2 linked regions of the Homo sapiens genome follow. The protein of the gene in region 1 purifies or fractionates together with the protein of each later gene. This does not show direct contact. Each region holds a gene or a part of one and is shown on either strand. Other genes may lie near its edges. The genes, in order: MAP4K1 and NUDC.

What was found.
Region 2: the proteins of MAP4K1 (region 1) and NUDC purify together in Homo sapiens (affinity purification with mass spectrometry; 3 studies listed by BioGRID and IntAct, with this or other methods). This does not show direct contact.

The regions. Positions count from the first base shown.
Region 1 is NC_000019.10:38,589,385-38,605,472, forward strand, and holds part of MAP4K1 (mitogen-activated protein kinase kinase kinase kinase 1), read right to left. Parts: coding exon 16,025-16,088; intron 12,311-16,024; exon of another isoform or gene 12,142-12,310; coding exon 12,057-12,141; exon of another isoform or gene 12,029-12,056; intron 10,770-12,028; coding exon 10,693-10,769; intron 10,602-10,692; coding exon 10,541-10,601; intron 8,211-10,540; coding exon 8,102-8,210; intron 8,012-8,101; exon of another isoform or gene 8,001-8,011; coding exon 7,942-8,000; exon of another isoform or gene 7,869-7,941; intron 7,754-7,868; coding exon 7,650-7,753; intron 7,103-7,649; coding exon 6,928-7,102; intron 6,618-6,927; coding exon 6,555-6,617; intron 6,346-6,554; coding exon 6,256-6,345; intron 6,172-6,255; coding exon 6,101-6,171; intron 3,954-6,100; coding exon 3,898-3,953; intron 1-3,897. UniProt on the Homo sapiens protein: Serine/threonine-protein kinase, which plays a role in the response to environmental stress. Appears to act upstream of the JUN N-terminal pathway.
Region 2 is NC_000001.11:26,919,793-26,935,880, reverse strand, and holds the start of NUDC (nuclear migration protein nudC), read right to left. Parts: upstream 14,139-16,088; 5' UTR 14,033-14,138; coding exon 13,952-14,032; intron 11,793-13,951; coding exon 11,715-11,792; intron 1-11,714. UniProt on the Homo sapiens protein: Plays a role in neurogenesis and neuronal migration. Necessary for correct formation of mitotic spindles and chromosome separation during mitosis. Necessary for cytokinesis and cell proliferation.

The sequences.
Region 1 (16,088 bases):
TACCTCGTCTCAGTGAATCTCCCCAAAAGATACTTCTTTTTTTTTTTTTGAGACAGAGTTCACTCTTGTTGCCCAGGCTGGAGTGCAATGGCGCGATCTCGGCTCACTGCAACCTCCGCCTCCCGGGTTCAAGCGCTTCTCCTGCCTCAGCCTCCCGAGTAGCTGGGATTACAGGCATGCAACACCATGCCCGGCTAATTTTGTATTTTTAGTAGAGACAGGGTTTCTCCACATTGGTCAGGCTGGTCTCAAACTCCCGACCTCAGGTGATCCACCTGCCTCGGCCTCCCAAAGTGCTGGGATTACAGGCGTGAGCCACCGCGCCCGACCGGTGGGATACTTCTTATTACAAAGAAAAACAGAGGCTGGGTGCGGTGACCCCTGCCTATAAGCCCAGCACTTTGGGAAGCCTACACAGGTGAATCTCTTGAGTCCAGGAGTTCCAGACCAGGCTAAGTAACATGGCGAAACCCTGTCTGTACAAAAAATACGAAAATAAGCCAGGTGTAGTGGTACGCGCCTGTCATCCCAGCTACCCGGGAGGTTGAGGTGGGAGGACTGATTGAACCCAGGAGGTCGAGGCTGCAGTGAGCCATGATCGCGTCACTGCACTCCAGCCAGGGTGACAGAGAGAGAATCTATCTTTAAAAAAAAAGAAAAAGGGAGAAAAAAGCAACTTCACAGTGGAGAGAACTGGCTGATTCTACCTTAACCAAATGACCGAAGTTAATATCACCAGTAATGGGACAAACTAGCATTGTGTACTTCCTGAAATGATGCACTGAGAAAGACATCTTTCTGCAGTATTCCTGCCCAAAATTCAGAACGTGGAAACCTCAAACACAGTTAAGGGACATTTTAGAAAACAAATTTCCTTTAATTTTTAAAAAGGTCAAAGCTCCTTTAAGACAAAAGAAGTTTTAATTATTTTTTCCGGCTTAATTATAAAGAAACATGGCTCCTAAGTGCCACCTATGATCTTGGACCAGAAAAAAAAAAAAAAAAAAAAAATATATATATATATATATATATATATATATATATATATATATAATCACGGGCGTCACTAGGACAACGGGTGAAATTTTTTGTTGTTGTTGTTGTTGTTTTCTGAGACAGAGTCTCGCTCTGTCACCCAGGCTGGAGTGCAGTGGCGTAATCTCGGCTCACTGCAACCTCCACCTCTCCGATTCAAGTGATTCTCCTGCCTCAGCCTCCCAGCTGGGATTACAGGCACGTGCCACCACACCCAGCTAATTTTTGTATTTTTACTAGAGGTGGGGTTTCTCCATGTTGGCCAGGCCCATCTCCAACTCCTGACCTCAGGTAATCTGCCCACTTCAGCCTCCCAAAGTGCTGGGATGACAGGCGTGAGCCACCACACCTGGCCAACTGGTGAAATTGAGTAGGGGTATGAATTAGAAGGTTGTGATGTTTCAGTGTTGTTTTCTTGATTTTGACAGCTGTGCTGTGGTTTGTAACATTATGTCCTTGCTTTGATTCAGGAAACATACACTGAAGTATTTTAGGGGTAAATGGGCATCACGTCTGCAATTCATTCCCAAATATTCATTAAAAAATCACACACACACACACACACACACACACACACACACATATACTTGTATGTGTGGTGTGTGCGCATAAGAAAGAGAAGAGGCCGGGCATGGTGGCACATGCCTGTAATCCCAGCTACTCGGGAGGCTGAGGCAGGAGGAGTGCTTGAACCCAGGAGTGGGAGGTTGTGGTGAGCTGAGATTATGCCATTGCACTCCAGCCTGGGCAACAAGAGCGAAACTCTGTCTCAAGAAAAGAAAAAAAAAAGAATAATAAGGCAAATGCGGTTAAAAAGATTAACATCTGGCCAGGTACAGTGGCTCACGCCTGTAATCCCAGCACTTTGGGAGGCAGAGGTGGGTGGATCACCTGAGGTCAAGAGTTCGAGACCAGCCTAACCACCATGATGAAAGCCCACATCTACTAAAAAAACAAAAAAATTAGCTGGGCGTGGTGGTGTGCAACTGTAGTCCCAGCTACTCAGGAGGTTGAGACAGGAGACTTGCCTGAACCCGGGAGGCAGAGGTTGCAGTGAGTGGAGATCCACTGCACTCCAGCCTGGGCCACACAGCAAGACTCCATCTCAAAAAAAAAAAAAAAAAAAGATCTGGTTAATCTGGATAAAAGGGATTTTTGCAACTTCTCTGGGAGTGTGAGTTTTAAATTATGTCAAAATAGTTAAAATAGTTATTTTTAATAGTTAAAAATTTTTAATAAGATAAAAATCTAAAATAAAAATGCAGCCAGGGCTGGGCACGGTGGCTCATGCCTGTAGTCCCAGCACTTTGGGAGGCCGAGGCGGGCAGATCACCTGAGATCAGGGGTTCAAGAGCAGCCTGGACAACATGGCGAAAGCCTGTCTCTACTAAAAATACAAAAATTAGCCGGGCACAGTGGCACATGCCTGTAATCCCAGTTACTCGGGAGGCTGAGGCAGGAGAATCGCGTGAACCCAGTGGGTGGAGGTTGTGGTGAGCTGAAATCACGCCACCGCATTCCAGGCTGGGCAACAGAGCAAGAATCCGTCTCAAAAAAAAAAAAAAAATGCAGCCAGGTGTGGTGGCTCATGCCAGTAATCCTAACATTTTGGGAGGCCAAGGTAGGAAGATTGCTTGAGGCCAGCAGTTCAAGGACAGCCAGGGCAACATGGCAAGACCCCGTCTCTACAAAAAAATTTTAAAAATTAGCCAGTTGTGGTGGTGTATGCCTGTGGACCTAGCTACTTGGGAGGCTGAGGTGGGAGGATCAGTTGAGCTCAGAAGGTCAAGACTGCAGTGAGCTGTGTGTGTAACACTGCACTTCAGCCTGCGCAACAGAATGAGACCTTGTCTCAAAAATGAAATAAAATTAAGGCCAGGTGCAGTGGCTCACTCCTGTAATCCCAGAACTTTGGGAGGCCAAGGCAGCTGGATCACCTGAGGTCAGTAGTTTGAGACCAGCCTGGCTAACAAGGCGAAACCCCGTCTCTACTAAAAATACAAAAAATAGCCAAATGTGGTGGTACACACCTGTAAACCCAGCTACTTGGGAGGCTGAAGCATGAGAATCACTTGAACCTGGGAGGCAGAGGTTGCAGTGAGCTGAGATTGTGCCACTGCACTCCAGCCTGGGCAACACAGCGAGACTCTGTGTCAAAAATAAATTTTAAAAAAATTTTATAAATAAAAGAATTAAAATTAAAAAATAAAAGGATTGGCCAGGTGCAGTGGCTCATGCCTATAATCCCAGCACTTTGGGAGGCCGAGGCAGGTGGATCACCGAGGTCAGGAGTTCGAGACCAGCCTGGCCAACATGGTGAAATGCCATCTCTACTAAAAAATATAGTATTAGCCGGGTGTGGTGGCACATGCCTGTAATCCCAGCTACTTGGGAGGCTGAGGCAAGAGAATCGCTTGAACCTGGGAGGCAGAGGTTGCAGTGAACCAAGATCACACCATTGCACTCCAGCCTGGGCAACAAAAGCAAAACTCCATCTCAATAAATAAATAAATAAATAAATAAATAAAAGAATTGCTGGGCATGGTGGCACATGCCGGTAGTTCCAGATACTCAGGAAGCTGAGGTGGGTGGATCACTTGAGCCTGGGAGGTCAAGGCTGCAGTGAGCCGTGGTCGTGCCATTGCACTCCAGCCTTTGAGTACAGTGAGAAACAAAACAAAAAGAGAGAACGCCCCCGTGGCTGCAGTGCAGAGAACAGACTCTAGGGAGCAGGGATGGAAGCAGGGTGACCAGGTGAGACACTGTCCAGGCTAGAGATACCTTGCTGGGGACACCTCAGAATGCTCTCTTCACATCAGAAGCCCCCTCCCAGGTCCTTCTGCACCCCACCCCACAACATACCTGGGGGAGCCAAGCAGACGGAAAGTGAGGGTAGGGTCTCTCAGCTCCTGTAGCAGCTAGGGAAAAAAAGTGTGTGTCTCAGTGCCTGGAAGATACCTCCACTGTCACTACGAACATGGCTCCCTTAAAGACAGCAAGGAGCTGGGCACGGTGGCTCACGCCTGTAATCCCAGCACTTTGGGAGGCCGAAGTGGGTGGATCACCTGAGGTCAGGAGTTCGAGACCAGCCTGGCCAACATGGCAAAACCTCGTCTCTACTAAAAATACAAAAATTAGCTAGGCATGGTGGTGCGCGCCTATAGTCCCAGCTACTCAGGATCTGAGGCAGAAGAATCACTTGAACCCGGGAGGCAGAAATTGCATTGAGCTGAGATTGCGCCACTGGGCGTGCCACTGGAGCCGAGATCTCCAGCTGAGATAATTTTTGTATTTCTACTGAAAATACAAAAATTAGCCAGCTGTGGTGGCGCATGCCTGTAGTCCCAGCTACTTGTGAGGGTGAGGCACGAGAATCGCTTGAACCTGGGTGGCAGAGGTTGCAATGAGCCAAGATTGTGCCACTAACACTCCAGTCTGGGGAACAGAGCGAGACTCCATTTCAAAAAGAGGGAAGGAACTGAGTGAGCAAAAATAAATAAATAAAAATACTAAAGTGTAAGGGCAAAGTCTGACACAGTATTCTGTGAGATAAACACCATTTTCCAAATGAGGACAGTGAGGCACAGGAAGGTTAAGTCATTTGCCCAAGGCCACTCAGCTGAATTCCAACCCAGACAGTCTTGTCTTAACTATCCATATATCTCTATAGTGGTCCCCATTTTACAGTTGGGGAACAGAAGCTTAAAGAGAAGCAACGTTGCCAGCCCAAGGTCACAGTAGTGGCCCAGGATGAGATTGGGACTCAAGAAATCCAAGAGCAGCCAGGTGCAGTGGCTCACACCTGTAATCCAAGCCACTTGAGAGGCTGAGGAGGGAGGATTGCTTGAGCCCAGAAAGTCAAGGCTACAGCTAGCTATGGTTGCACCACTGCACTTCAGCCTGGACAAGAGAGAGAGACCCTATCTCCAAAACAAACAGGCCGGGTGAAGTAGCTCACGCCTGTACTCCCAGCACTTTCGGAGGCTGAGGCGGGCAGATCACTTGAGGTCAGGAGTTCGAGACCAGTCTGGCCAACATGACAAAACCCCGTCTCTACTAAAAATACAAAAATTACCTGGGCATGATGGAGTGTACCTGTAATCCCAGCTACTCGGGAGGCTGAGGCAGGAGAATCACTTGGACCCAGGAGGCAGAGGTTGCAGTGAGCTCGGATCATGCCACTGCACTCTGCCCTGGGTGACAGAGCGAGACTCTGTCTCAAAAAATATATAAAAATGGCCAGGAGTGGTGGCTCACACCTGTAATCCTAGCACTTTGTGAGGCCAAGGAAGGCAGATTGGCTGAGCTCAGGAGTTTGAGACTAGCCTGGGCAACATGGTGAAACCCTGTCTCTACTAAAAATACAAAAAAATTAGCTAAGCATGGCGGCATGCACCTGTAGTCTCAGCTACTCAGGAGGCTGAGGCAGGAGAATTCTTTGAACCTGGGAGGCAGAGGCTGCAGTGAGCCGAGATCGCGCCACTACACTCCAGCCTGGGTGACAGAGCAAGAATCCATCTCCAAAAATAAATAAATTTTATCTATCTATCTATCTATCTATCTATCTATCTATCTATAAAATAGGCCGGGTGTGGTGGCTGACAGCTGTAATCCCAGCACTTTGGGAGGCCAAGGCGGGTGAATCACCCCAGGTCAAGAGTTCAAGACCATCCAGCCTGATGAACATGGTGAAACCCCGTCTCTACTGAAAATACAAAAATTAGCCAGCTGTGGTGGCGCATGCCTGTAATCCCAGCTACTTGGGAGGCCGAGGCAGGAGAATCGCGTGAACCCGGGAGGTGGAGGTTGCAGTGAGCCGGGATCGCACCACTGCACTCCAGCCTGGGCAACAAGAGTGAAACTCCGTCTTAAATAAATAAATAAATAAAAATAAAATAAAAAATAAATCCTGGGGCAAAGAAGGGGATCTATCTGAACTGAAATTTGGAAGATGTTTCCCCTCCAGGACTTCACACTCTGACTCAGGAGTTCTCGGAGCCCATCTGATGAATGTCATGATGGAGGCTGGGGGGCAGTGATGTGGAGTTTGGATGGAGGGGCTTACCTGATCCGAGCCTAGAGCCCACACCTGCACTCCATGCTTCCAGAAGGCCTGAAGCTGACCTCCAACCATAGCTGGGGAGAAAGCAATGCCCGTTACCCTTGGGGATCACTTGAGTTTCCACCCCTGATCCTGGGCTCTCCCGTCCCTGCACAGACCCACGGCCTCCACCGCTTCGGTCATGGGGATCTCAGGTGTGCGAAGTCCCCGGACTGGGGACCCCTCCGGGGTCACCAGCTTCACAGAGCCTGGAAGGAGATAGACGGTTTTAAGAACTGTGAGCAAGGCTTAGAGGGTTACTAAGGGACCAATCCATAAATTCAGTGTGAAAGCTATGTAGGACAGGGGCAAGGCCCAGAGGGGCTCAGGGGGTTCTGAGAAGCACAAGTTCGGAGGCAGAGATCTAGGGACTGCAGCTGGAGGGGTGGGGAGGAAGGGGAGGAAGGAGGGTTCTCACCATCCATCAACACCATCACCATATCTTCCTCTACCTGGGTCACCTGCACGGGTCCCCTGTGCTCTGTTTGGGGGGAGTGGGTTAAGGATTGACCCCACCCCATTCCCCTTTCCCCACACCACCCCCAGAAGGCCAGTACCTGTGCTTTAGCCACCGCCTCAGTTCACAAGCAAGTGGGCTAAACCCCGCCCACCATCCCGGTCCCACCCCATCATCAATCTCCCCAGTTAACTAAAACCTGCCATTCTCCCTTCTCCGCCCTTCCAGCCCTTTCTCAGTCCCGTAGTGCCTCAGGCTAAGCGAAGCCCCGCCTCCAGCTCCGCCCCTCCGGATCTGATAAGCCCCGCCCTCAGCAAGACTCCGCCCCACTCACCGGTGCTCATCTCGCCCAGCCAGCAAGAGAGCGCGCCAAAGCGCACCGTGTGGAAGAGCACCGACTTCCCCGGCCGCCCGGGGCTCACGCCGATGCACACAGCGGGCAGCTCAGAGCCTGGCCCGGTCAGCAGCGCGAACACGGACAGAGGCGTCGGCAGTGGGAACAGCACCTGCTGCGGGCCGCACAGGGAGGGGCGGGCTAGGGGGTGGTTCAGGACGGGGCCTCAGGGGGCGTGGCTTGTAGCTGGCCTGGGACTTCCGAACCAGGGCCCTAAGTCTTGGGGGATGCCGTCTAGAAATGTCAGGGGATAAGGCCTGGTGCCTCCGCGGGAACGGGGGTCGTGACCTCCGAGTGGGTGTGGCTTCCATGTGGGGGCATGCCACCTTGGCGGCAGACGGGCAGGGCCCCAAAGATAGCAAAACCTGCTTAGACACTCAAAGAGACAGGCTCTAAATGGGCTCTACTAGGACACCCAGGGAGTGGCAGCATTGAGCCTGAGGAATAATTAGGCCCAGGTGTGAGGGGCGGCGCTTAAGGATCAGGATGGCTTCAGAAGGACGAGGCTCCAAGCGCAGACCGCAGGTGGGCGGGGCCTCGGGAGATTGGGGCGGGGCCTCGACGGAGGTGGGGCTTCATGGAGCTCTTGATAGAAGCGCAAAGGGTGCAAGGCCTTAGCCACCCACTCCTCAGAGTTCCCAGCACCCTCCCAAGCCCCTTACCCGGACAAGCAGGAATTTGTTCATGGGCTGGTACCACTGAAGCAGGACAACGGACGTCTCCAATGCACCGCACAGGAACGGGCCCCCAGAGCTCGCACCCTCCGCTGTGGCATGGGCAAGGATGAGTCAAGATCAATGCCCTCTATCCTCCTCGCCACCCACACTACCACCCATCTTCTGGGTTCTGGACACATTGCCTTAACTCTGTAACCTTCTCAGGTGGATGCAGTTCAAGCCCCTCCTCTGGCCTGGCCCCGCCCACTCTCTGCACACCCGTGAAGCTCTCTCTCACCCACACAGCACGCCCGGCAGCCTTTGGTGTCCTGGATCTTGGTGGAAACCATGTTCTTCCTGGAGAATAGGTAGGTGTGAAGGGGGGTAGGACAGCAGGAGGCAGAGGGGCATGGGAGGAATTATAAGGCTGTGTGGTGCCATTCATTGGGAGCTGGTACCTTGCCAGTAGGCGGTGGGGGCTAATGTGAGCGATGGGGTTTCCTGCTCTGGTCTCTTTCCGTTCCAGCAGGCCAAGGATGCTATGAGAATACAGGTGGGGGGTCTTTCCTGCAGGGTGTGTGTATGTAGGGGGAAGCAGGAAGTTATAGGATCCCATATACCACTTCCTTTCCTCCATCCCTTCCCTCAGCCCCATCCCTTTGTCTGAAACTCCCAAGCCTGCAAGTCTCAAGTACTTGTCATTCATTCATTCATTTCTCACTCCACATAGATTGAACGTCCATTGTAGGCCAGGCCTGCTGTGCTTGGCTCTGGTGAACAGTGATGAGCATAAAAAATATGTTCCCTACCCTCGTGGTATTTGTAGCCGTATCAGAAACTCTGGACACATAACCAGTCAGATGAAGTTACACATCTTACAAAGTTTTAGAAGAAACACATCTAGAAAATCTTCTAGTTTGTCATCACAGATGTGGCTTTCACTAACTCATGAATCCCATTTGGCTTGGTGTTTCCCCCAAAACTAGAAATTATTTCATTTATTTATTATTATTATTATTATTTTAGACAGTCTCGCTCTGTCACCCAGGCTGGAGTGCAGTGGTATAATCTTGGCTCACTGCAGCCTCTGCCTCCCAGGTTCAAGCAATTCTCATGCCTCAGCCTCCCAAGTAGCTGGGAGTAGAGGTATGCGCCACCATGCCTGGATAATTTTTGTATTTTTAGTAGAGACGGGGTTTTACCATGTTGGCCAGTCTGGTCTCGAACTACTGACCTCAGGTGATCTACCCGCCTCGGCCTCCCAAAGTGTTGGGATTACAGGTGTGAACCACCGCACCCGGCCTATTTATTGTTATATATAGACAGGGTCTCATTCTGTCTTCCAGGCTGGAGTGCAGTGGTGTGATCATGACTCACTGCAGCCTCTAACTTCTGGGCTCAAGTGATCCTCCCACCTCAGCCTCCCGAGTAGCTGGAACCATAGGTGTGTGCCACCACACCCAGCTAATTTTTTTTTAATTTTTAGTAGAGACGAGGTCTCACTATGTTGCCCAGGCTGATCTAGAACTCCTGGGCTCAAGCAGTACTACTGCCTTGGCCTCTCAAAGTGCTGGGATCACAGGCATGAGCCACTGCACCCCGTCCAGATTTTGAAATCTATAACTTGCTCACTCTATCTTAGTAAAGTATGGAATAAGTTCTGATTGTCATCTGAACATGAAAGCTATTTAAAGACTAACTTAGGGCTGGGCACGGTGGCTTACACCTGTAATCCCAGCACTTTGGGGGGCTGAGACGAGTGGATCACCAGGTCAGGAGTTCGAGACCAGCCTGGCCAACATGGCGAAACCCCGTCTCTACTAAAAACACAAAAAATTAGCCGCGTGTGGTGGCAGGTGCCTGTAATCCCAGCTACTTGGGAGGGTGAGGCAGGAGAATCGCTTGAACCTGGGAAACGGAGGTTGCAGTGAGCCGAGACTGCGCCACTGCACTCCAGTCTGGGCAACAGAGTGAGAGTCTATCTCAAAAAAAAAAAAAAAAAAAAAAAGGACTAATTTAGGCCAGGTGCGGTGGCCCACACCTGTAATCCCAGCACTTTGGGAGGCCAAGGCGGGTGGATCACCTGAGGTCAGGAGTTTGCGACCAGCCTGGCCAACATGGTAAAACCCCATCTCTACTAAAAATAAAAAATAAAAAAAGTAAAAAAAAAAAAAGCCAGTCATGATGGCTCACATCTGTAATACCAGCTACTCGGGAGGCTGAGGCACGAGAATTGCTTGAACCCAGGAAGTAGAGGTTGCAGTTAGCCAAGATCACGCCCCTGCACTCCAGCCTGGGCAACTGAGTGAGACTCGGTCTCAAAAAAAAAAAAAAAAAAAAAGGCTAATCTAAGGCCAGGTGTGGTGGCTCATGCCTGTAATCCCAGCATTTTGGGAGGCCAAGGCAGTTGGATCACCTGAGGTCAGGAGTTTGAGACCAGCCTGGCCAACAGGGTAAAACTCTGTCTCTACTAAAAATACAAAATTTAGCCAGGTGTGGTGGTGCACACCTGTAATTCCAGCTACTCAGGAGGCTGAGGCATGAGAATCACTTGAACCTGGGAGGCAGAGGTTGCCGTGAGCTGAGATTGTACCACTGCGCTCCAGCCTGAGTGACAGAGGGAGACTCTGTCTCAAAAAAAGAAAAAAAAAGACTAATTTATTGTAGAAACTACCTCAAAATTGACTTGAGAGGTGAGGACTATTGTGAACCCCATTTTACAAATGGAGAAATTGAGGCTTGGGGAGCACAGTCAAAAAGTGTCTGGGATTTGAACCTAGGACTTTGTGACCAAGCAGTCTAAGTTTTTTTTCAGCTGTGCCCGTCTACTTCCCAGCCCCCGAACCCTTGGACCCCTTAACTTCCGACCCCATCCCACCTGCTACCCACAGCCAGACCTGAGAGAGACATGAGAACGTTGTTGATGGAGTACACCCACGTAGTCCGGCTAGGAAAGAGCTGCAGGGAATGGGAGAGATGGCTCTGGTGACACCCCAGCAACCCCCGACTCCGGCCCTTGCCCTTGCCCTGGCCCGGTATGGTTCCTCACCATTTCCAGCGTGGCCTCCTGGTCATTCCGGTTCAGGATGAAGATGCCTTCCTCTGCCCCCAGGAGCAGGTGCTGGTCTGGAGGCACAGACAAGGACGCTGGGACCGACTTCATCCTCAGGGACCTCCCAGATCCCCACCTGTCTGACCTCAAACACTGACACTCTGTCCCCAGCTCTGACCCTCTATTCTTTCTCCAAACCAATACTCCCAGCCTCTGTTTCCCCAAACAAAGCCAGAGCGGACGGTCCCGCAAGCCAGTCTCACTCTCCCTCCTTTTGACTACCCATATTCTGGTGGTTCTTTCTTCTCTGCCCAACTGTCTTCTGAACCAAACTGACCCCAACCTTAGACCTGTCCCCCAAAATAGTCCTCTGATTTCCTCCCCTCTTTCTCCCCAGTTCTGATACCCTAATGCCAATCCTAACATTGACCTTCAAACTCAGACACCCCCAAACAGGACTTTTTCTGTCCAGTGTGACCTGTTCCTTTAACACTGACCTTGTCTTCATCTCTTTGATCTCTAGATTCTGTCCCTTTCTGGCTGCATCCTAATCTCTAAAATTCCTCACCCCAAAATGCTGCTCCCAGTCTCCCTATCATTAACCTCCAGCTGTCCATCTTTCTCGTGCTCCAAACTCTAACCTTTTTGTTATATTCTGACACTCCTGGCCCCTGAATTCCAATATTCCTACTTTCACTCTCCAACTCATCCCTCTACCCATTTTTTTTTTTTTTTTTTTTTTTTGAGACTGAGTCTTGCTCTGTTGCCCAGGCTGGAGTGCAGTGGCATGATCTCAGCTCACTGCAACTTCCGCCCCCTGGATTCAAGCAATTATCCTGCCTCAGCCTCCTGAGTAGCTGGGATTATAGGCACGTGCTACCACGCCTGGCTAATTTTTGTGTTTTTAGTAGAGACGAGGTTTTACCACGTTGGCCAGGCTGGTCTCAAACTCCTGACCTCAAATGATCCGCCCGCCTCCGCCTCCCAAAGTGCTGGGATTACAGGCGTGAGCCACCATGCCCGGCCTACCTAGCTTCTTTTGTATTTTTAGTAGAGACGGGGTTTCACCATGTTGGCCAGGCTGGTCTTGAACTCCTGACCTCAAATGATTCACCCGCCTCAGCCTCCCAAAGTGCTGGGATTACAGGTGTGAGCCACCACACCTGGCTGCCCTCTATGCATCTTTGATCACCAAATCCTGAGTGTAAGGACAAGCTCCGCCCCTGTTTCAGCCTGGCCACACCCCAACTCCATTAAGCTCCTCCCCGTCCCTGCCTTTGTGCCTTCCTTAGGCTTCTCCCCACCCCTACTTTTGCTCTCCCATTCCCTACAGGATCTCCTTGACCCTCCAGAATGCCCACCCTTGGTGGAGGGATGTGTCCAGGCGGCCGTGCTGTGGATCCGGAGGGGGCAGCCATTGAACAACTTTACGAGAAGGGCACATCCCTGGGCAGGTCGCCGCGGGGCCAGGCAGCAGATCCGGCAAAGAGAGCAGGGAACAGGAAGGGGCAGTGGTTACGACTTTGGAGCGAGAGTGCCAAGGTTCAAATCCTGCCTCTTACCTTGGTGCAATTTCCCATAATCTATCCCTGTAATACACTTTTTCATACATTGAGTTTTCTTTTCAGTTTGTTTTTGTTTTTTTTTGTTGTTGTTATATATTTCTTTTTTTAGTTTTTCCTCCACTATCCTAAATCATCAGCATTTGTTTTTTTTAAGACAGAGTCTCACTCGGTTGCCCAGGCTGGAATGCAATGACATGATCTCAGCTCACTACAACCTCTGCTTCCCAAGTTCAACTGATTCTCATGCCTAAGCCTTCTGAGTAGCTGGGACCAAAGGCGTGTGCCACCACACCCAGCTAATTTTTGTATTTTTAGTAGAGATGGAGTTTTGCCATGTTGCCCAGGCTGGTCTTGAACTCTTGGCCTCATGTGATTCACCTGCCTCAGCCTCCCAAAGTGCTGAGATTACAGGCGTGAGGCACCACTCCCAGCTGTCAGTTTTGTTTTTGGAGATGGAGTCTCACTCTGTTGCCCAGGCTGGAGTGCAGTGATGCAATCTCAGCTCACTGCAACCTCCACCTCCTGGGCTCAAGCAATTCTTCTGCCTCAGCCTCCTGAATAGCTGGGATTACTGGCACACAACACCACGCCTGGCTAATTTTTGTATTTTAGTAGAGACAGGGTTTCGCCATGTTGGCCAGGCTGGTCTCGAACTCCTGACCTCAGGTGATGCGTCTGCCTTGGTCTCCCAAAGTGCTGGGATTACAGGCATGAGCCACTGTGCCTGGCCAGCATATATATATATACACATATACATATATATATAGACACACACACACACACACACATATATATACACACACACATACATATATACACACATATACATATATACACACATATACATATATACATATATACACGTGTACATATATACGCATATACATATATACACATATACATATATATACACACATATACATATATACATATATATACACATGTACATATATACGCATATACATATATATACACATATACATATATATACACACCTATACATATATACATATATACACATGTACATATATACGCATATACATATATACACACATATACATGTATACATATATACACACATATACATGTATACATATATACACATGTACATATATACGCATATACATATATACACATATACATATATACACACATACATATATACATATATACACATGTACATATATACGCATATACATATATACACATATACATATATACACATGTACATATATACTTATATACACATGTACATATATACACACATGTACACATATACGCATATACATATATACACATACATATATACACACATATACACATGCACATATATACGCATATACATATATACATATACATATATACACACATATACATGTATACATATATACACATGTACATATATACGCATATACATATACACATATACATATATACACATGTACATATATACACATGTACATATATACACATGTACATATATACGCATATACATATATACACACATATACATGTATACATATATACACATGTACATATATACGCATATACATATATACACATACATATATACACATATACATATACACATATATATACACATGTACATATATACGCATATACATATATACACATACATATACACACACACATACATGTATACATATATACACATGTACATATATACGCATATACATATATACACATATACATATATACACACATATACATATATACACATGTACATATATATGCATATACATATATATACACGTATACATATATACACACATATACATGTATATGTGTGTGTATATATGTATATGTATATATGTATGATTAATTATGCTATGCATTTCATCTTTGAATCATTTCCAGTGCTGGAGGTATAAATTATACATACTTTTAGCCGGTAGCCAACCAGGCACGGCTGTAATCCCACCAGTTTGGGAGGCCGAGGTGGGAGGATCACTTAAGCCCAGGAGTTCAGGACCAGCTTGGGCAACATAGTGAGACCCTGCCTCTATAAAACATTTTTTTAAAAATTAGCCAAGCTGGGCCGGGCGCGGTGGCTCACGCCTGTAATGCCAGCACTTTGGGAGGCCGAGGCTGGCAGATAACTTGAGGTCAGGAGTTTGAGACCAGCCTGGCCAACATGGCAAAACTCCGTCTCTACTAAAAATACAAAAATTAGCTGGGCGTGGTGGTGGGCGCCTGTAGTCATGGCTACTTAGGAGGCTGAGGCAGGAGGATCACTTAGACTGGGGAGGCAGAGGTTGCAGTGAGCCAAGATAGCACCACTGCACTCCAGCCTGGGCGACAGAGTGAGACTCCATCTCAGAAAAAAAAAAAAAAAATTAGCCAAGCGCTACTAGGGAGGGTGAGGTGCATGGATTGCTTGAGTCTCCGAGGTCAAGGCTGCAGTGAGCCATGATCGCGCCACTGCACTCCAGCAGCCTGGGCGACAGAGCGAGATACTATCTCAAAAAAAAAAAAAAAAAAAAAAAAAGACTTTAGAGAGTTCTAATTCATTTTATGCATTTGTTGGCAAATTTGATGCCACAAAGGTGCATTATCACAACACTGACTACGTGTGTAGGCATTATGCATGTACGTAAAAACACTGAAACTTCCTGAATAAAGAGATGTTCTTTTTGTACATCTCCATTTATGAGAGGTAAAATTTCTTGAGATCTTGGCTCTTTGGGCAACTGCATATGTGGTAGTGACTCATGGAGGTTTTGATGGATCTTGTCAAAAGACTCTAACTTCTGGACTCAAGCAATCCTCCCACCTCAGCTTCCCAAGTAGCTGGGACCATAGGTGTGTGCCACCACGCCCAGCTAATTTTTTAAATTTTTAGTAGCTGGGCGCGGTGGCTCATGACTGTAATCCCAGCACTTTGGGAGGCCGAGGCGGGCAGATCACAAGGTCAGGAGATCGAGACCATCCTGGCTAACACGGTGAAACCCCGTCTCTACTAAAAATACAAAAAATTAGCCGGGCCTGGTGGCGGGCACCTGTAGTCCCAGCTACTCGGGAGGCTGAGGCAGGAGAATGGTGTGAACCTGGGAGGCGGAGCTTGCAGTGAGCCGAGATCGCGCCACTGCACTCCAGCCTGGGTGACACAGTGAGACTCTGTCTCAAAAAAAAAAAAGCATGCCAGACGCGGTGGCTCATGCCTGTAATCCCAGCACTTTGGGAGGCCGAGGCAGGTGGATCACCTGAGGTCAGGAGTTCAAGACGAGCCTAACCAACATGGTGAAACCCCACCTCTACTAAAAATACAAAATTAGCCGGGCATGGTGCTGCATTGCCTGTAATCTCAGCTACTCCGGAGGCTGAGGCAGGAGAATCACTTGAACTAGGGAGGCGGAGGTTGTAGTGAGCTAAGATCGCGCCACTGTACTCTAGCCTGGGCAACAAGCAAAACTCCGTCTTTAAAAAAAAAAAAAAAAAAGCAGAAACAACAATCCTGCCTCAGCCTGCCTCCTCAAAGGTATTTATATGACCTTGGGTAAGCCACTTACCCTCTCTGTGCTTCAATTTCCCCATTTGTGAAATGGGGGATAACATCTCTGTGATATCTTCTTCACTCTGTGAAGCTTTATGCCATGTAATGATAGGAGATAAGTGTAGGGCACAGAGAAGCGCTCAACAAATGTCACCTGTTGTTACTGTCAGTCCTGCCACCCCCTCCCCACCCCACCAGGCATCCCCAGCCCCGTCCAGAGGTGTAAGTCCTCAGCAGAGCTGAACCTCACCTTTCTCTTCATCTTTTCCTTCTTGGGGGGCAGAAGTGGGGGCTTGTCAAGCTCCCGGGAGGGT
Region 2 (16,088 bases), on another chromosome or scaffold:
GCTGTGATTACAGGCCTGAGCCACTGTGCCTGACCCTTAATTTTTTGTTTTTGTCTTTGTTTGAGGTCTCTTAATTTACAGGTTTCTATCACCCAGTGTAAAGTGTGAACCTTACTTGAATTAGGAATCAAACAATCGTAATCAAATACCCAATAAAAAAGACAAATGTCTTGACTAGATGATATATGATATCATCTAGTTCTGTGTCCCCACCCAAATCTCATCTTGAATTGTAGTTCCCATAATCCCCACATGTCATGGGAAGGACCTGGTGGGGGGTAATTTGAATCATGGGGGTGGCTACCCCCATGCTGCTTTCTTGATAGTGAGTTATCATGAGATCTGATGATTTTACAAGGGGCTTTTCCGCCTTTGCCTGGCACTTCTCCTTCCTGCCACCTTGTAAAGGTGGTACCTGCTTCCCCTTCACCTTCCACCCTGACTGTAAGTTTCCTAAGGCTTCCTCAGCCATGCAGAACTATGAGTCAATTAAACCTCTTTCCTGGCCATAGTACATGAGGGTTCTGTATTAGTCTGTTCTCATGCTGCTATGAAGGAATACCCTAGACTGGGTAATTTATAAAGAAAAGAGGTTTACGGCTGGGCACGGTGGCTCACGCCTGTAATCCCAACACTTTGGGAGGCCAAGGGGGCACGGAACACCTGACGTCAGGAGTTCGAGACCAGGTTGGCCAACACAGTGAAACCCTGTCTCTACTAAAAATACAAAAATTAGCCAGGCGTGGTGGCAGGCACCTGTAATCCCAGCTACTTGGGAGGCTGAGGCAGGAGAATCGCTTGAACCCAGGAGGCAGAGGTTGCAGTGAGCTGAGATCGCCCCACTGCACTCCAGCCTGGGTGACAGAGCGAGACTCTGTCTCAAAAGAAAAAAAAACAAAAAACAAAAACAAAAAAACCTGTCCTGGCCGGGCGCGGTGGTTCACGCCTGTAATCCCAGCACTTTGGGAGGCCAAGGCAAGTGGATCACGAGGCCAGGAGATCGAGACCATCCTGGCTAACACGGTGAAACCCCGTCTTTACTAAAAACACAAAAAATTAGCCGGGCATGGTGGGGGGTGCCTGTAGTCCCAGCTACTGGAGGCTGAGGCAGGAGAATGGCGTGAACCCAGGAGGCGGAGCTTGCAGTGAGCCCAGATTGCACCACTGCACTCCAGCCCGGGCGACAGAGCGAGACTCCATCTCAAAAAAAAAAAAAAACCTCTGTCCTTTATAAATTACCCAGTCTTGGGTATTTCTTCACAGCAGCATGAGAACGAAGTAATACCTTGTCACAGATGAGCTTTGGACTGGGACTTATGGGTTAATGCAGAAATGAATTAAGACTTTGTGGGGCTGTTGGAAGGGCATGATTGTGTTTTGAAATGTGAAGACATGAGATTTGGCGGGGGTACCAGGGGCAGAATGATACCGTTTGGCTCTGTTTCCCCACCCAAATCTCACCTTGAATTGTAATTCCCACATGTCAAAGGCAGTACCAGGTGGAGGTAACTGAATCACCAGGATGGTTTCCCCCATGCTGTTCTCATGATACGAGTGAGTTCTCACAAGATCTGATGGTTTTATTAGCGTCTGGCATTTCTTCTGCTGGCACTCATTCTCTCTCCTGCCAATCTGTGAAGAAATGCCTTCTTCCATGATTTTAAGTTTCCTGAGGCCTCCCCGGTCATGCAGAACTCTGAGTCAATTAAACCTCTTTTTTTTCTTCTTTGAGACGGAGTCTCGCTCTCTCGACAGGCTGGAGTGCCATAGCACAATCTCGACTCACTGCAACCTCTGCCTCCCACGTTTAAGCGATTCTCTTGCCTCAGCCTCCTAAGTGGCTGGGAATACAGGCACACGCCACCACACCCAGCTAATTTTTGTATTTTTAGGAGAGCTGGGGTTTCACCATGTTGGCCAGGATGTTCTTGATCTCCTGACCTCGTGATCTGCCCACCTTGGCCACCCAAAGTGGTGGGATTACAGGCGTGAGCCACCGTGCCCAGCCGTAATCCTCTTTTCTTTATGAATTACCCAGTCTGGGGTATTCCTTCATAGCAGCATGAGAACAGACTAATACAGAATCCTCATGTACTATTAGTGGTAGTGTCAAATGGTGCATCTGCTATGGAAAAGATCATGGCATTTCCTAAAAAAACTAAAAACTGGCTGGATGCAGTGGCTCAAACCTGTAATCCCAGCACTTTGGGAGGCCGAGGCGGGTGGATCACCTGAGGTCAGGAGTTTGAGACCAACCTGGCCAACATGGTGAAACCCCGTCTCTAATAGAAATACAAAAATTAGCCAGGTGTGGTGGCAGGTGCCTGTAATCCCAGCTACTCAGGAAGCTGAGGCAGGAGAATCGCTTGAACCCAGGAGGCAGAGGTTGCAGTGAGCCGAGATTGCATCATTGCACTCCAGCCTGGGCAACAAGAGTAATACTGTCTTAAAACAAAAACAAAAACAAAAACAAAAACTACCATATGATCCAATAGATTACACTGCCGAGTAACACCTGCAAGAATTGAAAATAGAATCTCAAAAGATTTGTGCACCTATGTTCACAAAAGTACTATGCACAATAACCAAGGGGTGAAAGCAACCCAAAAGTCCATCAGCAGAAGAATAGATTTAAAAAAAAAAATTGTGGCCGGGCGCGGTGGTCAAGCCTGTAATCCCAGCTCTTTGGGAGGCCGAGCCAGGCAGATCACGAAGTCAGGAGTTCAAGACCAGCCTGACCAATATGGTAAAACCCCGACTCTAATAAAAATACAAAAATTAGCCGGGCGTGGTGGCGTGTGCCTGTAGTCCCAGGTACTCGGGAGGCTGAGGTTGCAGTGAGCCAAGATCGTGCCACTGCACTCCAGCGTGGGCAAGAAACAGAGCAAGACTTGTCTCAAAAAGAAAAAAAAAAATTGTGATATATACATATAATGGAATATTATTCAGCCTTAAAGGGGATGGAAATCCTGTCACATGCTACAATGTGGATAAATCTGTGGACATTACATTAAACGAAATAAGCCAGTCACAAAGACATACATATTGTATGATTCCATTTATATGAAGTATCTACAGTAGTCAACCTACACAGAAAACAGAACAGCAGTTACCAGGAGGTAGGGGAGGGAACAAAGCGAAGTTGCTTAATGGGTACAGGGTTTCAGTTCCCTAAGATGCAAAGAGGTCTTACAAATATGTTTCTTAGTGTAAGTTCACTTAACACTACTGAACTGTACACTTAAAAATGGTTAACATGGGCCAGCACAGTGGCTCACATCTGTTATCCTAGAACTTTGGGAGGCCGAGTCAGGCAGATCACTTGAGCCCTGGAGTTAGAGACCAGCCTGGGAAACATGGTAAAACCTCATCTCTACAAAAAAAACAGAAAAATTAGCTGGGGGCCGGGCGCAGTGGCTCACACCTGTAATCCCAGCACTTTGGGAAGTCGAGGCAGGAGGATCATGCGGTCAGGAGTTCAAGACAGGTTTGACTGACATGGTGAAACTTCATCTCTACATTGTAAAAATACAATAATTAGCCCGGCATGGTTGTGCGCACCTGTAATCCCAGCTACTCAGGAGGCTGAGGCAGGAGAATCGCTTGAACCCGGAAGGCAGAGGTTGCAGTGAGCCAAGGTCACACCACTATACTCTAGCCTGGGCAACAGAGCGATACTCTGTCTCAAAAAAAAAAAAGAAAAAGAAAAATTAGCTGGGCATGATGGCACTGGAGTCCAAGCTACTTAAGGGGTTAAAGTGGGAGGATCACCTGAGCCTTGGGGAGGTCAAGGTAAGTAGTGATCATGCCACTGCACTCCAGTGGGTGACAGAGTGAGACTCTGTCTCAGAAATATAAATAAATAAATTAAATAAAAATTAAAAAAAAAAAAAGGGGCCAAGCGTGGTGGCTCACACCTATAATCCCAACATTTTAGGAGGCCAAGATGGGCGGATCACAAGGTCAAGAGTTTGAGACCAGCCTGGCCAATGTTACTGAAACCCTGTCTCTACTAAAAATACAAAAATTAGCCAGGCGTGGTGGTGGGCACCTGTAGTCCCAGCTACTTGGGAGGCTGAGGCAGGAGAAATCTCTTTTTTTTTTTGAGATGGAGTCTCGTTCTGTCGCCAGGCTGGAGTGCAGTGGCGATCTTGGCTCACTGCAACCTCTGACTCCTGGGTTCAAGCGATTCTCCTCCCTCAGCCTCCCGAGTAGCTGGGATTATAGGAGAGTGCCACCATGCCCGGCTAATTTTTGTATTTTTAGTAGAGACAGGGTTTCACCGCGTTGGCCAGGATAGTCTCGATCTCCTGACCTCATGATCCGCCCACCTCGGCCTCCCAAAGTGCTGGGATTATAGGTGTGAGCCACCGTGCCCAACCGGTACGAGAAATCTCTTGAACCCAGGAGGCACAGGTTGCAGTGAGCCGAAATGGTGCCACTGCACTCCAACCTGGGCGAAAAAGCGAGACTCTACCTCAAAAAAAAAAAAAAAAAAAAAAAGGCCAGGCGCAGTGGTTCATGCCTGTAATCCCAGCACTTTGGGAGGCTGAGGCAGGCAGATCACCTGAGGTCAGGAGTTCGAGATCAGCCTGGCCAACATGGTAAAACCCCATCTCTACTAAAAATACAAAAATTAGCCAGGCGTGGTGGCACACGCCTGTAATCCCAGCTACTCGGGAGGCTGAGGTGGGAGAACTGCTGGAACCTGGGAGGCAGAGGTTGCAGTGAGCCAAGATGGCGCCACTGCACTCCAGGCTGGGCAACAGAGCGAGACTCCGTCTCAAACAAACAAACAAACAAAAAACAAAACAAAGGTTAAGAAGGTAAATTTTATGATGTGCTTTTTACCACACTTTTTTTCTGAGACAGAGTCTCGCTCTGTGGCCCAGGCTGGAGTGTAATGGCATGATCTCGGCTCACTGCAAACTCTGTCTCCCAGGTTCAAGCAATTCTCCCACCTCAGCTTCTCGAGTAGCTGGGATTACAGGCCCCTGCCACCATGCCCAGCTAATTTTTGTATTTTTAGTAGAGACGAGGTTTCACCATTTGGCCAGGCTGGTCTCAAACTCCTGACCTCAGGTGATCTGCCCACCTCGGCCTTCCAAAGTGCTGGGATTACAGGTGTGAGCCACCGTGCCCAGCCCACTATTTTTTTTTTTTTTTTTTTGAGACAGGGTTTAGCTCTGTTGCCCAGGATGGATTACAGTGCCGTTTATCATGGGTCACTGCAGCCTCAAACTCCTGGGCTCCAGAGATCCTCCCACCTTGGTCTGCAGAGTAGCTGGGACTACAGGCTTGTGCCACCACTCTTGGCTATGATTTTCTATTTTTTGTACAGATATGCTCTATGTTGGACCAGACTGGTCTTGAACACCTGGCCTCAAGTGATCCCCCCATCTCAGCCCATATTTTTTTAAAAAACAAAAGAGCTGGGTACAATGGCGGCCGCAAAGGCGGGTAGGTCGCTTGAGATCAGAATCAGAAATTCAAGACCTGCTTGGGCAAGATGGTGAAACCCCCACTCTACAAAAAATACAAAAATTAGCTGGGTGTGGTGGGGCACGCCTATACTCCCAGTTACTCAGGAGGCTGAGGTGAGAGGACCGCCTGAGCCTAGTGGTCATGGCTGCAGTGAATCATGATCGCACTACTGGACACCATCCAGGCTGGGCAGCAGAGCGAGACCCTGTCTCAAAACAAAACAAAACACAATAGTAAGAGAGCATTGAGGGAAATCAGAACCCTGACTGGATGTGGATCTCTGGTAATATTTAAAGAATTGGTATGCTTTTCTGGAGAAGGTATACCATTACAGTTACATTTGTTGTGGCTGTTGTTGTTGTTTTTGTTTTTGAGACGGAGTTTCACTCTTGTTGCCCAGGGTAGAGTGCAGTGGTGCGATCTCGACTCACTGAAACCTCCGCCTCCTGGGTTCAAGTGATTCTCCTGCCTCAGCCTCCCGAGTAGCTGGGATTACAGGCGCCTACCACCATGCCCAGCTAATTTTTGTATTTTTAGTAGGGACAGGGTTTCACCATATTGGCCAGGCTGGCCTCTAACTCCTGACCTCAGGTGATCCACCCACCTCAGCTTCCCAAAGTGCTGGGATTACAGGTATGAGCCACTGTGCCCGGCCCTACAGTTATGTTTTTAAACAGTAACTTTTCTTTTAGATAGTCACATAATATTTACTCATCAAAAAATATGCCTTCAATTATATGTAAGTGGAATGCAATAGGGTAGTCCCACCGTACCCACGAAGATTTGTTCCAGGACCACTCCCCAACACTAATTTCCGAGGATGCTCAAGTCCCTTATATAAAATGGCATTTTATTTGCATATAACCTACATGCATCCTCCTGCATACTCTCAATCATCCCTAGATTACCTAATACCTAATACAATGTAACTGCTACGGATGTAAGTAATTAGATTATATTTTTTTAATTTGTTTTTTTTTTTTGTTTTTTCAGAAGGGGTCTTGCTATGTTGCCCAGGCTGATCTCAAATTCCTGGGCTCAAGCCATCCTCCCATCTCAGCCACCCAAGTAGCTGGGATTACAGGTGTGCGTCACCACGTCGGGCTTAATTCATATTTTTTTATTATTGTACTGTCATTTAAAAAAAATTTTTTTTCCAAATATTTTCCATCAGTGGTTGGTTAAGCTCATGGATGCAGAGCCCACGGATACAAAGGATCAACTGTATTTGTCCTTTTGTGACCAGCTTATTTCATATAACATGATGTCCTCCAAGGTACATCCATGTAGCAATGGACAGGATTTCTTTCCCTTTTAAGGCAGAATAACATCCCAGAGTATGTCTATACCACATTGTTTATCCATTCACCTGCTGATGGAGCCTTTGGTTCCTTCCACCTTTTGGCTGTTATGAATAAGGCTGCTGTGAACATGGGTGTGCAAGTAAATCCTCCTCCTGATTATTTTGGGTATATACCCACAAGCATGACTGCTAGAACATACGATAGTTGTATTCTTTAACTTTCTGAGAAACCGCCATAACGTTTTCCATAGCAGATGCACCATTTGACATTCCCACCACAGTGTACAAGGGTTCCAGTTTCTCCCTATCTTTGTCAACACTTGTTATTTTGTTTTATCTTTTAACGGATGCCATCCTAACAGATGTGAAATAGTATCTCATTGTGGGTTTTGTTTTGGAAACAAAGTCCTGCTCTGTCACCAAGACTGCAGCGTAGTGACACAATCACGGCTCACTGAAGCCTCAACCTCCCAGGCTCAAGCAATCCTCCTACCTCAGCCTCCTGAGTGGTTGGGACTAAAGGCATGTGCCACAAGGCCTGGCTAATTTTTATTTATGAGTTCCTAAATATGAAATTCACAATTAAATGTTATTTTTCCTCTGCACTGCATATTTTCTCATAATCTGGTGTTCTTCAATTGACTTAAATGTCTTTTACCATTTACAAAGTTTCAGCATCTGAAAAGGCAAACAGCTATCTCTTCTTTTATAGCTTCCAGTTTTCTAATGCTGAAAAGTCTCCCCCACATAAGACTATAGTTTCCTAGTTTTCCTTACAGGATTTTTATTATTGGTATTTTTATAGAGTATGACAGATGGCAAATTTTGTTTTTTTAACCAAAAAAAATTCATGTAGCAGCATGACTTATTAAATCATGCTTTGCCTACTGAACTGAATTACCACAATAGACACATTAAATCCTCATAAATGCCAGACTTTATTTCAGGATTCTCTATTCTGCTTCACTGGTCCATTTTTCTCTTCTTCTATCAATACCATATTGATTAGATCACTATGGCTGTATTCAAGTCTACAATTCCTAGCCCCAAAAGCTATAAAAACTAAAAGTGCTTTTGTATTTTTTTGTAAGTTCGTGGCATGAGGTATTTACAGTCTTCATTTCTTCTACTTGGTATGTATATTGATATATATATTTCTGCAGAAATATTAATGTGTTTTGTTGCAGGATGCAGCTCCTGGCCTGCGATTAGATTATTGTATGTAATGCACATTATATGCACTGTATTGCCTTTCTGAAATCCAAATAATTTTAAATACCAAAACACATGTGGCCCCAAGGGATTCTGAAGTGGATTGTGGTCTTTGCCTTTTTTTAAATCCTCGTAACATCCTTGTAAGGTAAGGACTGCTCCCTCTTACAGTTAAGAAAAATTAGGGGCTGGGCGCAGTGGCTCATGACTGTAATCCCAGCACTTTGAGGGGCCGAAGCGGGCAGATCACGAGCTCAGGAGTTCGAGACCAACCTGACCAACATGGTGAAACCCCGGCTCTACTAAAAATACGAAAATTAGCCAGGCATAGGGGCGGGCGCCTGTAATCCCAGCTACTCAGGAGGCTGAGGCAGAAGAATCGCTTGAACCTGGGAGGCGGGGATTGCAGTGAGCTGAGATCGCTCCACTGCTCTCCTGCCTAGGTCATAGAGCAAGACTCCGTCTCAAAAAAAAAAAAAAAAGAAAAAGAAAAATTAGGTAGTCCCAGCACTTTGGGAGGCTAAGGCGGCTGGATCACGCCACTGTGCTCCAGCTGGGACAACAGAGCAAGACCCTGACACACACACACACACACACACACACACACACACACACACGGTTCATCTCTCTCCCTTCTTACAGCCACTGTGCTCCAGCTGGGACAACAGAGCAAGACCCTGACACACACACACACGGTTCATCTCTCTCCCTTCTTACAGCTATTCATCCTTCATATCTGAAGCGTCACTTCCTCACAAAGTCTTCTCTGAGCCCCCAACCTAGGTTAGTTTTATGTTCCCAGGGATTCTGCCCCAACACCCACTACTTTTTCACTGCTTGTTTTTTTTATTTTGGCTACACTGTGAGATCCATGAAAACAAAGAACAAATCTGTATTCACCTCTGCAATCCCAAAAGGTTTGATATAGCACCTAACATAATCCAAAGTGTTAAGTGTTCAATAAACATTCATTGAAAAAAGTAGGCCGGGTGCAGTGGCTCACGCCTGTAATCCCAGCACTTTGGGAGGCTGAGGCTGGGGGATCACCTGAGGTCAGGAGTTTGAGAACAGCCTAACCAACATGGTGAAACCTGTCTCTACTAAAAATACAAAATTAGCCAGGCATGGTGGTGCATGCCTGTAATCCCACCTACTTAGGAGGCTGAGGCAGGAGAATCACTTACAACCTGGGAGGCAGAAGTTGCAGTGGGCTGAGATCGTGCCATTGCACTCCAGACTGGGCAACAAGCATGAAACTCCGTGTCAAAAAAAAAAAGAAAGAAAAAATAAATGACTAGTCCCAAAAGCTATAAAAACTAAAAGTGCTTTTGTATTTTTTTGTAAGTTTGCGGCATGAGGTTTTACAGGTAGTCTGACCCACAGAAAGGCCAGAGGTGTTAGTGACAATACAGAAAAAATATCTGAGCTAGAAGGGGTCTACTTTCTCCCATTTTACAGATGTAAAGATGGAAAGAACCAGAGCATTGCTGGGAACTCGACTAGGTGACAAAGCTAGACCAAGAACCTGGGACTCCTACTCTTAGGTAATGTGTCTATGACAGAGTGGCCTCAGACATTCAGGACACATTAAAGAGTTTACCAACTTGTTAGAATCCTGAAGCCACAGAAAACGGTTTGCAAAGAACGTCTACGTCTCCTTCTTATTATGTCTCTTGTTTATGTCTATTATAAAGATAATGGCGCCGGGCGTGGTGGCTCACGCCTGTAATCTCAGCTACTCAGGAGGCTGAGCACAATAATTGCTTGAACCCAAGAGGCAGACATTGCAGTGAGCCAAGATCGCACCATTGCACTCCAGCCTGGATAAAAAGAGCGGGACTCCGTCTCAAAAAAAAAAAAGGCTGGGCATGGTGGCTCACACCTGTAATCCCAGCACTTCGGGAGGCCAAGGCAGGCAGATCACCTGAGGTTGGGAGTTCAAGACCAGCCTGGCCAACATGGTGAAACCCCATCTCTACTAAAAATACAAATATTATCCAGGCGTGGTGGTGCATGCCTGTAATCCCAGCTACTCAGGAGGCTGAGGCAGGAGAATTGCTTGAACTCGCAAGGCGGAGGTTGTGGTGAGCTGAGATCGTGCCATTGCACTGCAGCCTGGGCAACAGAGTGAAACTCTGTCTCAAAAAAAAAAAAAAAAAAAAATTCCTCATGATATAACAATTTTCAAAAGTATAATTACAACTTTAAGGAATCAGAAAGAAGTTCAAGGTCTCAGAATCAATACTACAAAACAGAAATCCTTAAACTCTGAGTCACAGCATCTGGGAAGACATGCCTCTGAGTATTTCTAAATTTATTTCTTTTTTTTTTTTTTTTTTTTTTGAGACGGAGTCTCACTGTTGCCCAGGCTGGAGTGCAATGGCGCGATCTCGGCTCACTGCAAGCTCCGCCCCCCGGGGTTCACGCCATTCTCCTGCCTCAGCCTCCAGAGTAGCCGGGACTACAGGCGCCCGCCACCTCGCCTGGCTAATTTTTTGTGTTTTTAGTAGAGACGGGGTTTCACCGTGTTAGCCAGCATGGTCTCGATCTCCTGACCTCGTGATCCGCCAGCCTCGGCCTCCCAAAGTGCTGGGATTACAGGCGTGAGCCACCGCGCCCGGCCTTCTAAATTTATTTCTAAGCATCAGTTTCTAATATTTGCCCAGTCTCATCTCCTAGGTTATTAGTTAAAACCTCCTCAGGCCGGGTGCAGTGGCTCACACCTGTACTCCCAGCGCTTTAGGAGGCCGAGGTGGGTGGATCACTTGAGGTCAGGGGTTCGAGACCAGCCTGGCCAACATGGTGAAACCTCATCTCTACTAAAAATACAAAAATTAGCCAGGCATGGTGGCGCCTGCCTGTAATCCCAGCTACTTGGGAGGCTGAGGCACAAGAATCACTTAAACCCAGGAGGCGGAGGTTGCAGTGAGCCTAGATTATGCCACTGCACTCCAGCCTGCGCAACAGAATGAGACTCCATTTCAAAAAATAAAATAAAATAAAATAAATAAAAGTAAAAATAAAACCTCCTGGCCAGGCACAGTGGCTTATACCTGTAATCCCAGCACTTTGGGAGGCCGAGGCGGGTGGATCATGAGGTCAGGAGTTCGAGACCAGCCTGGCCAATATGATGAAACCTCGTCTCTATCAAAATACAAAAATTAGCCAGGTGTGGTGGCGGGCGCCTGTAATCCCACTTACTCAGGAGGCTGAGGCAGGAGAATTGCTTGAACCCAGGAGGCGAAAGTTGCAGTGAGCCGACATTGCGCCACTGCGCTTCAGCTTGGGTGACAAAGCAAGACTCTGTCTCAGAAAATAAATAAATAAATAAAACCTCCTCATTGGAAAAGGAACTGAGAGGCACTGTGTCGGGGCAGAGGACAGGTTTACAACAGACTGGTTTCAACCCTGGTTCTCCCACAGCTCAGCTCAAGACTTTGGATAAGGTGCAAAATTCTCTTGAGCCAATTTCCTCAATGGGGATAGTTAACACCTGCCCCTCTTGTAGAACTGCAAAAGTCATGGGAAATAAGGTAGATAGAGGGCTGAGCAAGGAGTGGAGCTTGAAGAAATGACAGCTTCCTTCCCTTCCCCAATTCCTCACCTTTGGCATTTCGCTTCTGCTGAAAGTTACTATTATGCCAAAGAAAGGCCAGGTGAGCTTTTCTTCTGAAGAGACAGAGCCGCCCAAAGGACAGTGGTTTCCAACACTTACCTTCTCTGCCATCCCTTCTTCTCCTCCAATGAAAAAGTCTGTTTTGCGTCGAAGGAAGCTGAAGAAGGTGTTCACAAGCTGAAAGAGGGGGAGAAGATTAAAGTAGTAGAGCTGCATTTGGGAGCCCTTCAACTGCACACAAGTCAACTTGTTTTGTCTAGGAGGGAACTTGGGACTTGACTATTTTTCCTCTGAGCTTCCCAACTGAGGAGATTATCTCCCCAGCAGGTTCTCTTAGTCACTTCCACCATGAAGCAGATTTCTCATATCCTGTGTGTGTGTGCGCCTTTCACTTTCCTTGTGATGCTAGAAGCAGCCTAAGCGTATGGAACACTCCTCTGCATCCAGGGCATGAAAAGCCTGGGCCCAGCTTTCCTCTCCAGAAAGTAAAAAGCCCATCAAGACACTGGCTCACACCTATAATCCCAGTACTTCAGGAGGCTCAGGTGGGCGGGTCACTTGAGGTCAGGAGTTCAAGACCAGCCTGGCCAACATGGTGAAACCCCGTCTCTACTAAAAACACAAAAATTAGCTAGATTACAGGTGGTGGGCACCTGTAATCCCAGCTACTTGGGAGGCTGAGGCAGAGAATCACTTGAACCCGGGAAGCAGAGGTTGCAGTGAGCCAAGATCGTGCCACCGCACTCCAGCCTGGGTGAGAGACTCTTGTCTAAACAAAAAAAAAGACACTGGCTAAGTTACCGGGTCAAAGCAAGAAGGAGGAGAGCAAATGAAGCCACTTCAAAGGAGGATAAGATGGATTAATTCTGGCTGGAGTACAAGTGTAGCCAACGGTTTGAGTATCAGATGGACATATATTACCTTTTGACTTTGCAGAAGTTTCTTAACTCTGTACAACAGGAATAAGATGCAGTACCTATTTCTAGGGACCTGGTGAGGATCATGAGGTCAAGGAGGTGAGGCCTTTAGCAATGTATGGCACAGAGCAAGAGACCCACTGGCAGAGGGTAAACACCTTACAAATAGGAACCATGAACCATGGCTTAGTCTGTCTGCCACCTGCAATGCTGGGCACCAGATATGGCTAAAGGTACATAATCAGTAAAATTCTTGCTGAATGAAACAATCTAGTGGTGACTCAAGGTCAGCACACACAAACCCTTTATTTGCCCAAGAGTGGGTCTAAATCTGATTAAATCTGATGCTAGAACATATCTCAATGGTTTCCGTTCTTGCTTCTAGACAGTTTTTCAATTTGCTCAAAAATGAACTCGCTCCCAAATCCAGTTTTGTGCGAACAGTTTAGAGGAATGGAGACAGGAAGGCTTTTCACACTTGCAAATGAGAAACACTCTCCCCACCACAAAGGGCTTAGAAGTCCTTGGTCACCAGACACCTAGGTTACATAGGAATAGAAAGTTCAATGGAAACCTACCTCCAGTAAGACACAATCAGCCATGGACTCTGGGAAGCACACTGACCTGTCTAGGTGAGAACCATGTTGCATGATCTAGGCAAATCCTTGCCACTTCTCTGGCTCTGAGAATGAGAGTTCTGATCCTGACAGACTTTTCTACCGTTAACTTTGTGTTTGTTCCAAAAAAACCAACTCCAGAATCTGTAACAGTTGGCCCTTATTGTCGAGTGTGGGACACACATCAATCACACGACAAATACTTGTTGAATGAAAAAGCCTTATTACTGAGAACTTACGGTTCTTAACTACTCTCTGGAAACCGGTATTCGCAGCTGTCTCACAGATAAGGAAACTCAGGCTTGGAGAGATGTAAAGGTTCCAAGTTGGTAGGTGGTGGAAACTAATCGTGAACACAGGCCTCCTATTCCCCCATTCAAGGCCTAACAAGACCACGTGCTAACATCAGCCCGCTCCCCTACCACACACATTCGACGGCTCGCCCCAAGCCTTGGTGGATCCAAATCACGATATTTGCGACGGTTCTTACTAAGGGATGCTCCTTGGAAGCCGCCATCAAAGTGGAAACGGGGGTGGGGGCATATGTGAAACTAAAGGGGGATCCTAAGCTCAGGGATGCGATAATTTGCTACTACTGAGGGGCGCCGGGGGCCCGGGACTGATGCGAACCGGGTGAGACCTGCTGGCGGGTGGCCAGGCCGGAAGCTGGGCGCAGTGAGAATGTAGGGGCATCCCAGAAGCCCGCGAGCCGCTGGGGTGGGTCTCAGCCCTCGAAGGCAGAGAAGGGCGGAAGGAGCGTGGCCAAGGCCGCCGGGTGGGCCGACGCCGCGCGGGCCGTTACCTCCTGCACGCCGCCCTCGTGCTGCTGAGCCATGGCCAGCAACATGCCGTCGAACCGCTCCTCCTCCTGCTCTCCGCCCATCGCGCCGGCTCCGATCCACGTCCCGGAGCTCTGCACTCTAGTCCCGCGCTCTCTACGCTCCTGCGGGTCGCGCCGGGCCCAACGACTCTAGTCGTCCGCCTTCCGCAGCGGAGCCGGAAACACGCACGCGCGCGGCTGCCCAGGCCCGCCTCCACCTCCTCTCTTCCCGCCTTCCTCCCGGTTTGCGGCCATTGACCGTGCGGCAAGCAACCCGCTTCGCCGACCATTGGTCGACATTCGGAGCCAATCAACAAGCGCGTCCACGAAGCGGTAGGCGGAGCCGTGGGCCCGAGAGTTTGGCATGAGTTGCTATGGTCACCCGATGCCGTGGAGACTTCTAGAAAGCCCTGGACTCAAATCTGGCAGGGTTGGAAGTTAAAAAGGGACAAGTTTTGCCCCTCTCCCTTGCTAGCGACCCCCCCAGCTTGTAGAGCAGTGAAGCTGAAAGTAGCCTTACTCATCTCTTCCAATCCTAGAAGGGACTTACCACAGGACAGCCTCCTCCTCATCGACCTCACTGCGTACTTGACTAGGGCCAGCTTCATGGGAGTACAAATTGCAGTCGCACAGCACCCAGGCTTAGAAAGGCTCCACGCTTGATTTCATGGCCTTCTGTTATAGTCTTGAAATTCTTAATAATTTTGGAATAAGGAGACCCACATTTTCATTTTGCACTGGGCCCAGGAAATTATGACAGGTGCTGAAATTGACCTTCACTTCTGTTAATGCGGGGACAGGACCCAGCCATCCAAGCTAATCCCTCCACTTGTGCAATGAATCTCATCATCTTAGTCTTTTCAGGAACTCTATCCCTGTTAATTATCCCTTTTTTTAGCTTATGCATCACAAATATCTTTCTTCTTCCCTTCAATTTACAAACACGCTTTAATATCTTTTTGTTTGTTTTTAGAGATGGGGTTCTTGCATTGTCACCCAAGCTGGAGTGCAGTGGCACCATCTTGGCTTACGGCAGCCTTGAACTCCTGGACTCAAGCCATCTTCCCCACTTCAGCCTCCAGAGTAGCTGGGACTACAGGCTCACATCACCACGCCCTGCTGTTTTTTTTTTTTTGTTTTTTGTTTTTTGTTTTTTGGTAGAGATGGAGTCTGTGTTGCCCAGGCTAAGTCTCAAACCCTGGTCTCAAGCACTCCTCCTGCCTCAGCCTCTCAAAGTGCTGGGATTACAGGTGTGAGCCACCATGCCCAGCCCTGTTTTTATATTATTATTCCATGGCCCCACTTTCTTCTGCTGCTACCTCTCCAATTTTCAGCTCTCATTTGCAGCAAACTTGTTTGCTTGTTTTTCTACTCCCTCACCTCCCATCTCTCTACAGTATATTCTAGTCTATCTATTCTTCTTTTTTTTTTTAGACCAAGTCTCACTCTGTTGCCCAGGCTGGAGTGCAGTGACACGATCTCAGCTCACTGCAACCTCTGCCTCCCAGGTTTAAGTGATTCTCAGCCTCCCAAGTAGCTGGGATTACAGGCACCACTACGCCTAACTAATTTTTTTTTGTATTTTTAGTAGAGGGGTTTTCACCATGTTGGCCAGGCTCGTTTCAAACTCCTGACCTCAAGTGATCCACCTGCCTCGGCCTCGCAACGCGCTAGGATTACAGGCATGAGCCACTGCGCCCGGCCTGTTCTAGTCTATTTTTTAAAGGCTCTGATATGGTTACAGTGCTACATATTGCCAAAGCCAATGAACCACTATTATCTTACTCAACTTCTCAGGTGCATTTGACACAGTTGACGCCTTCTTCTTTCCTTTTTTCCTTTAGGTTTCTCTTTTGGTTGGAATTGCGTGTTCCCCACTTCAGACTAGAGACTTCTCCCTTTAGATTAGAGATTCCTGGAGTTGATCTGTGTCTTCTCCCTCAGACTGAGGGCTCTTGAGGGCAGGGCCTTGCACTTGCACGGGCCCATCCTAGGCACTGGGAGCAACCCCAGCAATGTCTTCATAGCGTCAAATACATATTTTTTTTTCTTTTAACATGCAAAAGCAAAATTCTAAAATTGCAATTGGTTAAGACTACTATTTCTTCCCACTCTATCT